Linked DNA regions of Homo sapiens. The protein of the gene in region 2 purifies or fractionates together with the protein of the main gene of each other region. This does not show direct contact. Each region holds a gene or a part of one and is shown on either strand. Other genes may lie near its edges.

Region 1 (4,343 bases), on a different chromosome or scaffold from region 2:
TGGCTCGGACCTGCCGCAGGGCCAGGCTGTCACTGGGGGCCAGGAAGGAAGAGAGCACAGGGAGGTGGGTCGTGACTTCTCCCACTTCATCCTCCAGAGCAGACCTCGTCACCACCCATGGCCAGCAATCCCCCACAGTGGACAGAAAGACCCCCTGAAGTGGGGGAGGCAATGTAGGCCTCAGGCACCTTTCGATCTCAGAGAGGAACTTGGTCTTGAAGATGTCCCTGGTCTGAAGGCGCTGGATCTGCTGGCCCCGGAAGAGAACGCCAAGGCTGGTTAAATGTAAAAGGATGTGGCGGACGATCTCCCCCAGGTACATGCCGCTGATCATCTTTTCAAACCTGCATGAACATGTGTGCACTCGGCAGAAGGCCCCACCAGCCACCATCCCCAGCACCGGTCACAGCCAGCCACCACTGCCTGGGCCCAGCCCACACCTCTGCTTGCCGGGGTTGATGGACGCCTGGTCCACACTTGCATCAAAGCGGGTGCTGAGCATGGCCAGAGAGCCATCGTCCCCAAAGGCGCCCCACTCCATGTTGATGCACATGCGGCCTGAGTCCCCAGGCACGCCCGCCACATTCCGGAGCTCCTCCATGTAGCAGGCATTGGTGCCGGTTCCTGCAGAGAGGCCAGACAACGTGGAAGCTACTTACTGATGTAGACAAGGACCCTCTGAGCACTTCCCATACCGAGATGGCAACGATTCGGGCTCACTCTCTCTACCTCTCATGCTCACAGCCTGTCCCTGGTCCTGGTCCTTCTTCCTTCCCGACATCCCTCGTGCAGACCCTGCCAGCTCCAAGCCCTGGGGACCTTCACTGCCTTTCCCACCAACATCACCATCAGTGCATCCACCATGCCACCCCCAAGTGCTCCTACAATGCCCAGCTGTCCTGTCATTCCCCTGGGAGACATGTGACATCCCCCGCCCTCGCCCCTAGCTCTCTGCGGTTGAGAGGCCGAAGCTCCCTGGACCGGCCTGCCAGGCCCTTAATCCAACTAAGAGGTGCTGGGCCAAGAGCAGGGGACACAGAGAAATCAGAGACGAGGAGCCCCACAGTCTGGCCAGAGGTCAGGCAATGAATAGCCAGCTCTGACAGAGCCTCTGTGCCCCCGTGGAAGCACCAAGGAGAGCATCGTGGGAGCCCAGACCACGGGGCGAGTCTCTGCCAACAGGATCAGGAAAGCAACAGAGAGGAAGTGACTGAATCCAAGAAGCACAGAAAGAAAAAGGCATTCCAGGCAGAGGACGCACCCTGGATGAGGGCGTCTCCTTCCTTTCTCTGACACAGCTTCAGCTCCAGGAAGGTGGGCTCCTTGCTGGCCCCACCTGGAGCTCCTCTGTCCAGCTGTTTATGCACACAGCAACCTGGGCATGCCTCTCCCAAGTGCCTAACCGTGCCAGGTGCTGGGTTCAAAAACCTCCCCCTCAAGAGAGGCTGCCACATGCCTCGTGTTGAGAGACCAATGCCCCAGGAGCTGTGGGATCCCTCCTCCCCAACAGAGCCAAATCCTTTCTTTCAGGGCTTTCAAGTTCCACTCATCCTGGGACCCACTCCTTCCTGATCTTGGCCTCGCTGCTGCCCACGTGTAGAATCAAGTCACTCTCTGACCGCTACGTGTTGTTCTGGGCTTAACCCTTGCTGAGTGGTCGGTTCTGAGAAGGCAGAAATTGCCTCTTGTTTTATGTGTCTTCCTATTCCTCTGTCCAGTCCCCTGTGGACACAGGGTAGGTGCTTAATAAGGATGGAATCTTGGACTGTCTGAAGGACCCTCATTGCTCATTGGTCCCCTGCCCCCGCCCAGCTCCAAACACCAGGTGTGTACCATGAGCCAGGGACCATGCTGTATTTTGTCCCCTCCCATTTCATCCTCATGATGCCTTGAGACAGGCATTGTTACTCTTATCTCCATCTTAGAGATGAGGAAACTGAGGCTCTGGTGACTTGCCCAAGGTCATACAGGTGGAAACACAAAGCTAGTATTTCCACCCAAATCTGTACAACTCCAAAGCTCAGATTCATTTATCAGATGGGCAAAGTGAAGTTCAGAGAGCTTAAATGACCATGAGTCAGTCACTGAGCTGGACTATACACCCAAGCTCCAAACTGCCAGCCCAAGAGATTGTTCCAGAGCCCTACTGGGTCAGACCAGAGCAATCCCACATCCCCACCGCCAAGGAAACATCCAACCAGAGGAATCAACAGAAGGCAGCAAATTGCCAAGCAGTAGGGGCATGAAAGGGCAGGGCCCTCCTCACCGACAATGAGGCCTATCTCGCAACGGGGGTCCTCATAGCCACAGGACATCATGGTCCCCACCGTGTCATTGACAATGGCAACCACATTCAGCTCCACTGCCTGCACACAAAAGGATGCTGCTAGTTGCTGGGCAACGCGGTCGTCACAGCAACCAGCACTGGACCCAGAGGTCTCTACCGCAGAGGGCTCCCCCCTCAGAAAGTAGGAGACTCTTTGCTCCCCTCAAGGCCTGCCACAGCCCCAAAGCACCCCTAGAACAGGCTCCTACCTGTCTGCGAGTGATGGCTTCCCGCAACAGACTCACGACATCTTGGCCCTCGCAGTCTGATGCCTTGAAACCCTTGGTCCAGTTCAGGAGGATGCCCTGGGGTGAGACCGAGAGGAAGTGGCAGGAAGCTGGAGGCCCCTTCAGGCTCACTCTGCCTCTGCAAAACCTGCATCCATCACAAGCCTAGGCTTTCCACCCTCCCCAAGCACAATTCCTTGCCTACTTTGCTGTATGGTTGAAGGCCTTGCCCTCTGCCCGCTCCCTACTCCCCAGGAGGCTTTCGGTGTGCAAAAACCTATTAATAACCATCTAACCTACATTTTCCATTATTAGTTCCAGACAGTCAGAGGGTCTGGCCATTTTAAGACGTGTGCCCGGAAGGAATGGCCCTTTGTAATTGGGTTAGGAATTAACAGAGCTGGTAAAGTGAGTGCTGTGTGTGAGACAGGGGAGGACAGAGAAGGCTCAGAGGCCCAGATGACAGCAGATCCCACCCTTTCAGAAAGAACTCCAAGTTACTCTAGAGGAAGGAATTCTCAGCTTCAGGGATAGAGCCGTGTCAATGGGCGAGTCACTCATGTGTTCCAAATGCAGGGGCAGGAGGAATGGAAAAGCCAGAACCCAGGCCCCTGGGCAGGATGAAGGCTGAGTGCCCAGATTGTGAGAAAAGGGACTTAAACTTAGTGACACGGGGCTCAACTTTACCTGGAAAGGAATGCTGTTTTCTTAGTGTGCGTCCTCTGAGGGAGGGGGCAGGGGGAGCAGGAATTAGTCTACAGCTGTTGGGAGAAAATTACTGCTTTGCTCAGAGGAGGAGCATGGAGGGTAGGTCAGGAAATCTTTGGGGCAGAAGATTTTAGAAATAGTAAGCAACGTTTTCCTCCAATAATATGTCCTTTTATCCCGTTTTTTATTGTCCTAGGCTCATTGTCTCAAAAACAGAAAGCAGAGAATGTGATAGAGTGAGAGAAAGAACCCGTTTGAGAGAGACCAGATGATGAGTAAGAGCCCTGTGTGGGCTGCTCTCCCTAGAGTGGGGAAGGGGAGGCAAAGGGGGAAGTCAGACCCAGGTTGCTGATGACTTCCTGAGACAGGTGTCCTATGCCCTCCCCACTGGGCTGAACCCCTGTTCAGAAGGGATCTGAGAAATCTGAGAACAGAGGAGGCCTCTGCCCTCCTTCCCCAGATAATGCACAGGAAGGTGTCGAGACTCAAGAGAGGAAGTGGCAGAGGCAAGTGCCCAAAGAGCAGGGCCCGGGGCACCTCCCTGAGTTCCCACATCCCTGCAAATTCTGCACAGCAAAGGCTGCTGCAGAGCCAAAGGGGCTCCTGGGGAAGGCAATCCCCACACTGGTTAAGTTTTCACCCCTGAAAATAATGTGGGCCCAACATTTTTTTTTTAAGATGGAGTCTTGCTCTGTTGCCCAGGCTGGAGTGCAATGGCACAATCTCAGCTCACTGCAACCTCTGCCTCCCGGGTTCAAGTGATTCTCCTGCCTCAGCCTCCCGAGTAGCTGGAATTACAGGCACACACTGCCACGCCCGGCTAATTTTTGTATTTTTAGTAGAGATGGGGTTTCAGCATCTTGGCCAGGCTGGTCTTGAAATCCTGATCTCATGATTCACCCGTCTCAGACTCTCAAAGTGCTGGGATTACAAGCGTGAGCCACCGCGCCCAGCCTTCAGCACAGAAATTAAGTTCAGTTACAGAAAATTAATAAGACTATATTTCTTGCCCCCACCCCGCCCCCCGATTTGCACATGGAGTCTCACCTGCTTCTCACATCTTACAAGGAATAATCAAAAGG
Region 2 (4,494 bases):
TTCATAGATGCCATTTTAACATTTGCAAAAAGTTTAATTCAAATGATTTTTATAATTTCTATACTATTTTTACATAGAGTATTTTTCTAAGGTAGGGAAGACTCAAGTTCTTTTATGTGAAGTTTAAAAAGAATTTCAAGTATGGAAGATAGAGGAGATCATTGGCAATTCAGGGACTCTGAGGTGGTTTAGAAAAAAAAACCTGAAATACTTGACATCAGATCTCAACTTCAAAAAAGGTTTTCTTTAACTCAAAAACTGGAAGAAATGACTTTTCTAACTGCATGTTGAGACTTATGACAACATAAGTCATCACGGTGTTTCTTTCTTCATCCTTATTATAGAAATGACTTTTTTCTCAAATGTTCACATATTTGTATTAAGTCTATTATTCCTCAGTACTGTTTATGGTAGACATATACAAAATGTGTTCTAAATATATTTGTCATCCTTGAATATTATTCTGTGCATCTTTTTCTGAAAATAATTATGCTGGCTATAAACTAAACATAAAATTAGAATTCATGATGAAATAAAAACTACCCCAAAGATGAAACCTCATTATTGATTTAGAATTGAGTGTGCTTACTATCAAAAAATTTAGATGTTTAAGCACACTGTGGTACATATGTGTGGTAAAAATCAGTGGAAAAGAGCAAAGATTTTGAGATAATGTGTCACTTCTTAACAATTATAAGTAAAGATCACACAGTTTTCAAGTGAAACATGATAATATGAAATGTATATGTGAAATATACATGGGTTCATGATTCTGAAAAACTTCTTACCATATTTTCTATAATTTGGCATCTTGTGAAAATATGATTAACATTATGTTATTGTCAATGTCTTTTAAGTCTTTCATATACAGATGCACACACATAGATACACTTTTAGACTAACTTTAGGTAAAAGACTTTTCTAGGTATGCTTTCAGAAAATACTCAAAAACATACACTACAGAAAAAACAGTAAAAAGTATAAAATGTTCCAGACACTATCAGTTTGTTTTCTCCTAGAATACACACACAATGTCCCACTTGTGAATCTAGAGAGTTGAGAGTTTCAGGTCTTTTACTCAGCACCTAATCTGACACAAAATCAAAAGAAAGGTGTGTTTTAGCTTCTTGGTTCTCCAAATTAGGATGAATGAGTCGAATGCAAGATATATGTTTCCAACAGCCTTGCTAACCATGACAACCGGGTCATTCCGCAGCCTCCTAGGACTCCAAACCGAAACGATTAGGAATAGAAAGAAAATGGCACATAACAAGAGGAAGGAGATCAGAGTTTGCAAAGCTTTTATGTGGACCTTGGTGCTGAGATCTTGCGATCCTTCTCCATGGAGCTGCATCTTCTTGAGATGTTTACACAGAGAACAGATTAGCATCAGAAAAGATATCAGGGACAGAGTAAAGGGTATGAAGCTCCATAGGGTAGTTACAGTCAAATATGAAAGATGTACTGTATTCCTCAATTTCATCTTCCCAGTCATGTTTCCTTCATATTCTTCTGCCCACATACTCTCATCCATGTTTGCCACAAGAAGATGACAAACCAAAAATATCAAAGTCCCCAACAGTATCACCAGAATGACACTCCTAACTCTCCTCTTTAAATGAAGAAAAAGAAGGTTGGAGAAATTGGCAATCTTGAGCAAATAAAATATGCTGAGGTTAGCAGCAAGCCACATGCTGAAATGGTTGGTTACAACCCAGGCATTATAAGAAGTAATTCTTAATTCTACACTATAAAAAGCTGGATTCAACACAGTTAAATACCAATTTAATAATAATGCCCAGAGCAAACCAATTCTGGAGACCGCCAGAGCAGTGAGAATTTGGTCAGCTGAGGAGATCTTTTTTCTCTTCACCCAGTCAATGAAATTTACCAGTGCTATGAAGCCATTGGCAAAGTTTCCGAGAACAAATAAAACCATTATTAGAATTGAAAAAAAAATGTATAGAAAAGTTATCATATCTGAGCAGAAAAAAAGAAAGAAAATGCAAGCCTAATATCACTGGTTGTGATTTCTTTAATACTCTGACCTTAAATTTTATGTGCATCTGATTTCTGAATGTGCAGTAACATTCTTTTTACTTTTAAACACTGTGACCAGTGTCAAACAAGAAAGTACCAGCTTATGCTAATGGATGAGTTTGATGTCATCTTTACGGAAAACATTCTTATTTTCAAAACAGCTCAAATTAACTCATTCATTCAATGTCCGTTCTTGTGATGGGCTTGAATTATTCATAATGAAGTTGAAGTGAAACCTAAATTTTCATTTACCAGCATGCAAATAAAGACATATTCTCTTTCAATATTTTGCAATGTTTTCCTTGTTTAACCGATACGTAATTTGTGTTCAGCAACTTCAGCTGTTAGATAGGGAAATTTTACCCCCGAGTCCATCGTTCATACAGTAAATGTCTAAGTTCTTTAAAAGACCTTAGTCATAACTAGGATCACCACCATAACGGATTTACTATTTATGCTACATTTAAACAGACAGAATCCAAACTTTTAAATCAAAATCATCCAAGGTTTTCTTGGGAACCATAAGAAGACCAAAACACCTTAAAATCTGGTTGCTGCTAACCCAATACTTTTGTGTGAATTTATTGTTACCATGTTCATAAATAGATACAAACACAGAAAGAGAGAGAGAGAGAGAGAGAGAGACTGTGACACCCCTAAGAGATGGAAGGAATTATTTTCTTATACTTTCCAAAATGGGAAGTAAGTCTCCTGGAGGCCATCCACGTGAAATTAGTCCTATTTTCCCAGTGAAAACTGAGGGTTTTCAGACCCCCCCCAAAAAAATGTATCAAACATCAAACATATCTTTCATGCTTAAGCATTTGGTAAACTTACTCTCAAGTCTATTTAATGTTTAAGTATTTATTATTTAATTAAAATGTTCAACAATTTTGTAAATATTCCTGAGTACCACACCCTATGACACATAATTTTGCAGTATCCTCCCACCATAAGCAGGTTGATTATCTGTCCCCTGGACTCGGAGCTCACTCACACAACTTTCTTTGATGAACAGAAAATTGGTAGATTTCACACCGAGGTTTGAGATGGCTTCCATATTGGGGTTTCTTGCTCTTTTCCATTGATCATGAGATTATCACCTGGCTAGTACACTGTTTTCAGAATGAGAATGAAAACTAATGGAGTCAGTTTGCCTGCACTTGATCCATCCTAAATTGGCCAAAGTCTAACTAGCTCCAAGATGCAGAACTTGGCCCATCTCAAGTCACCAGAGCTATCCACCAAACCCAGCTTAGAAAACCTGAATCCAAAGATATATGAGATAAAAATATCTAACGTAGTTTTGGAGGGTTTCTCTAGTAGAAAAACCTAACTGGTACAGCTACTATGCTACACCAAGAGTGTGGGGAAATATATTTGCCCCTGTTTTGTCAGGAATTCAGGAGCCAAAAGAAAAATAGATGGGGAGTGGCAAAGTTTTGTCATGTGAGGTAGATAATTAAAGGTAATAAAAAAATGTTTGAAAGGATTTGTGTGCTGCAGGTAGCATCATCTGAAATTTCCATATGTTGCAGCTAAAATAAAGTTCCTACTTCAACTCTCTAAGAGTTGTATAAAAATGTGTATAAATGGTGAATTTTTTGCAAGGTATACAATGAGCAGAATAATTAATATTCTTTATGGAGCATTTTTCCAGTTAATAATTTTTAAATACAATTATAATGCACACTTAGAAATGGGTGAAAACTAAGATGGTAAACATAGCAATGTGTCATAAACACTCATGCAACCATCAAGCAGGGCAAAACATGTCACATTGCAAATAGCCTAGGTCCACCTCCATGCCACTCTCCAAGCCCCTACACCTTTCTTCACATACCCTGAGGAGAGCAATAGCCATAATTTAGAATGATCATTTCCTTGATTTTCTTTTTTTTTGAGACAGAGTCTCGCTCTATCACCCAGGCAGGAGTGCAGTGGCGCGATCTCAGCTCACTGCAACCTCCACCTCCCGGGTTCAAGCAATTCTCCTCCCTCAGCCTTCCAAGTAGCTGGGACTACAGGCGCATGCCACCACACCCAGCTAACTTTTTGTATTTTTAGTACAGACAGGGTTTTGCCATGTTGGCCAGGTTGGTCTTGAACTCCTGACCTCAGGTGATCCACCCGCCTCGGCCTCCCAAAGTGCTGGGATTACAGGCGTGAGCCACCGCGCCTGGCCTTGATTTTCTTTATACATTAACAACTAGGTATGCAACCCTAAACTCTATGATACGGTTTTACCTACTTTAAACCTTTAAGCCATATGTAGGTGTAGTCCTGTATGTTCCTGTTCATGGCTTCTTGGACTCACCTTTACGTTTCTGAAATTTACTCACATACTTGCATCTTTATGTGATTCATTTCTTTTCACTTCTCTATATTATTCCATTGTATGAATGTGTTGTAATGATTCATTCATCTTTAGTTGATACATATTTGGGGGGTTTC

What was found. The genes of interacting proteins can lie anywhere in the genome.
Region 1: the proteins of TAS2R50 (region 2) and HK3 purify together in Homo sapiens (affinity purification with mass spectrometry; one large-scale study listed by BioGRID and IntAct). This does not show direct contact.

Annotation. Positions count from the first base shown.
Region 1 is NC_000005.10:176,881,504-176,885,846, forward strand, and holds part of HK3 (hexokinase-3), read right to left. Parts: coding exon of another isoform or gene 4,323-4,343; exon of another isoform or gene 4,308-4,322; intron 3,315-4,307; exon of another isoform or gene 3,241-3,314; intron 2,632-3,240; coding exon 2,536-2,631; intron 2,367-2,535; coding exon 2,267-2,366; intron 625-2,266; coding exon 441-624; intron 345-440; coding exon 189-344; intron 33-188; coding exon 1-32. UniProt on the Homo sapiens protein: Catalyzes the phosphorylation of hexose, such as D-glucose and D-fructose, to hexose 6-phosphate (D-glucose 6-phosphate and D-fructose 6-phosphate, respectively).
Region 2 is NC_000012.12:10,984,883-10,989,376, forward strand, and holds TAS2R50 (taste receptor type 2 member 50), read right to left. Parts: upstream 2,031-4,494; 5' UTR 1,979-2,030; coding exon 1,079-1,978; 3' UTR 1,031-1,078; downstream 1-1,030. UniProt on the Homo sapiens protein: Receptor that may play a role in the perception of bitterness and is gustducin-linked. May play a role in sensing the chemical composition of the gastrointestinal content.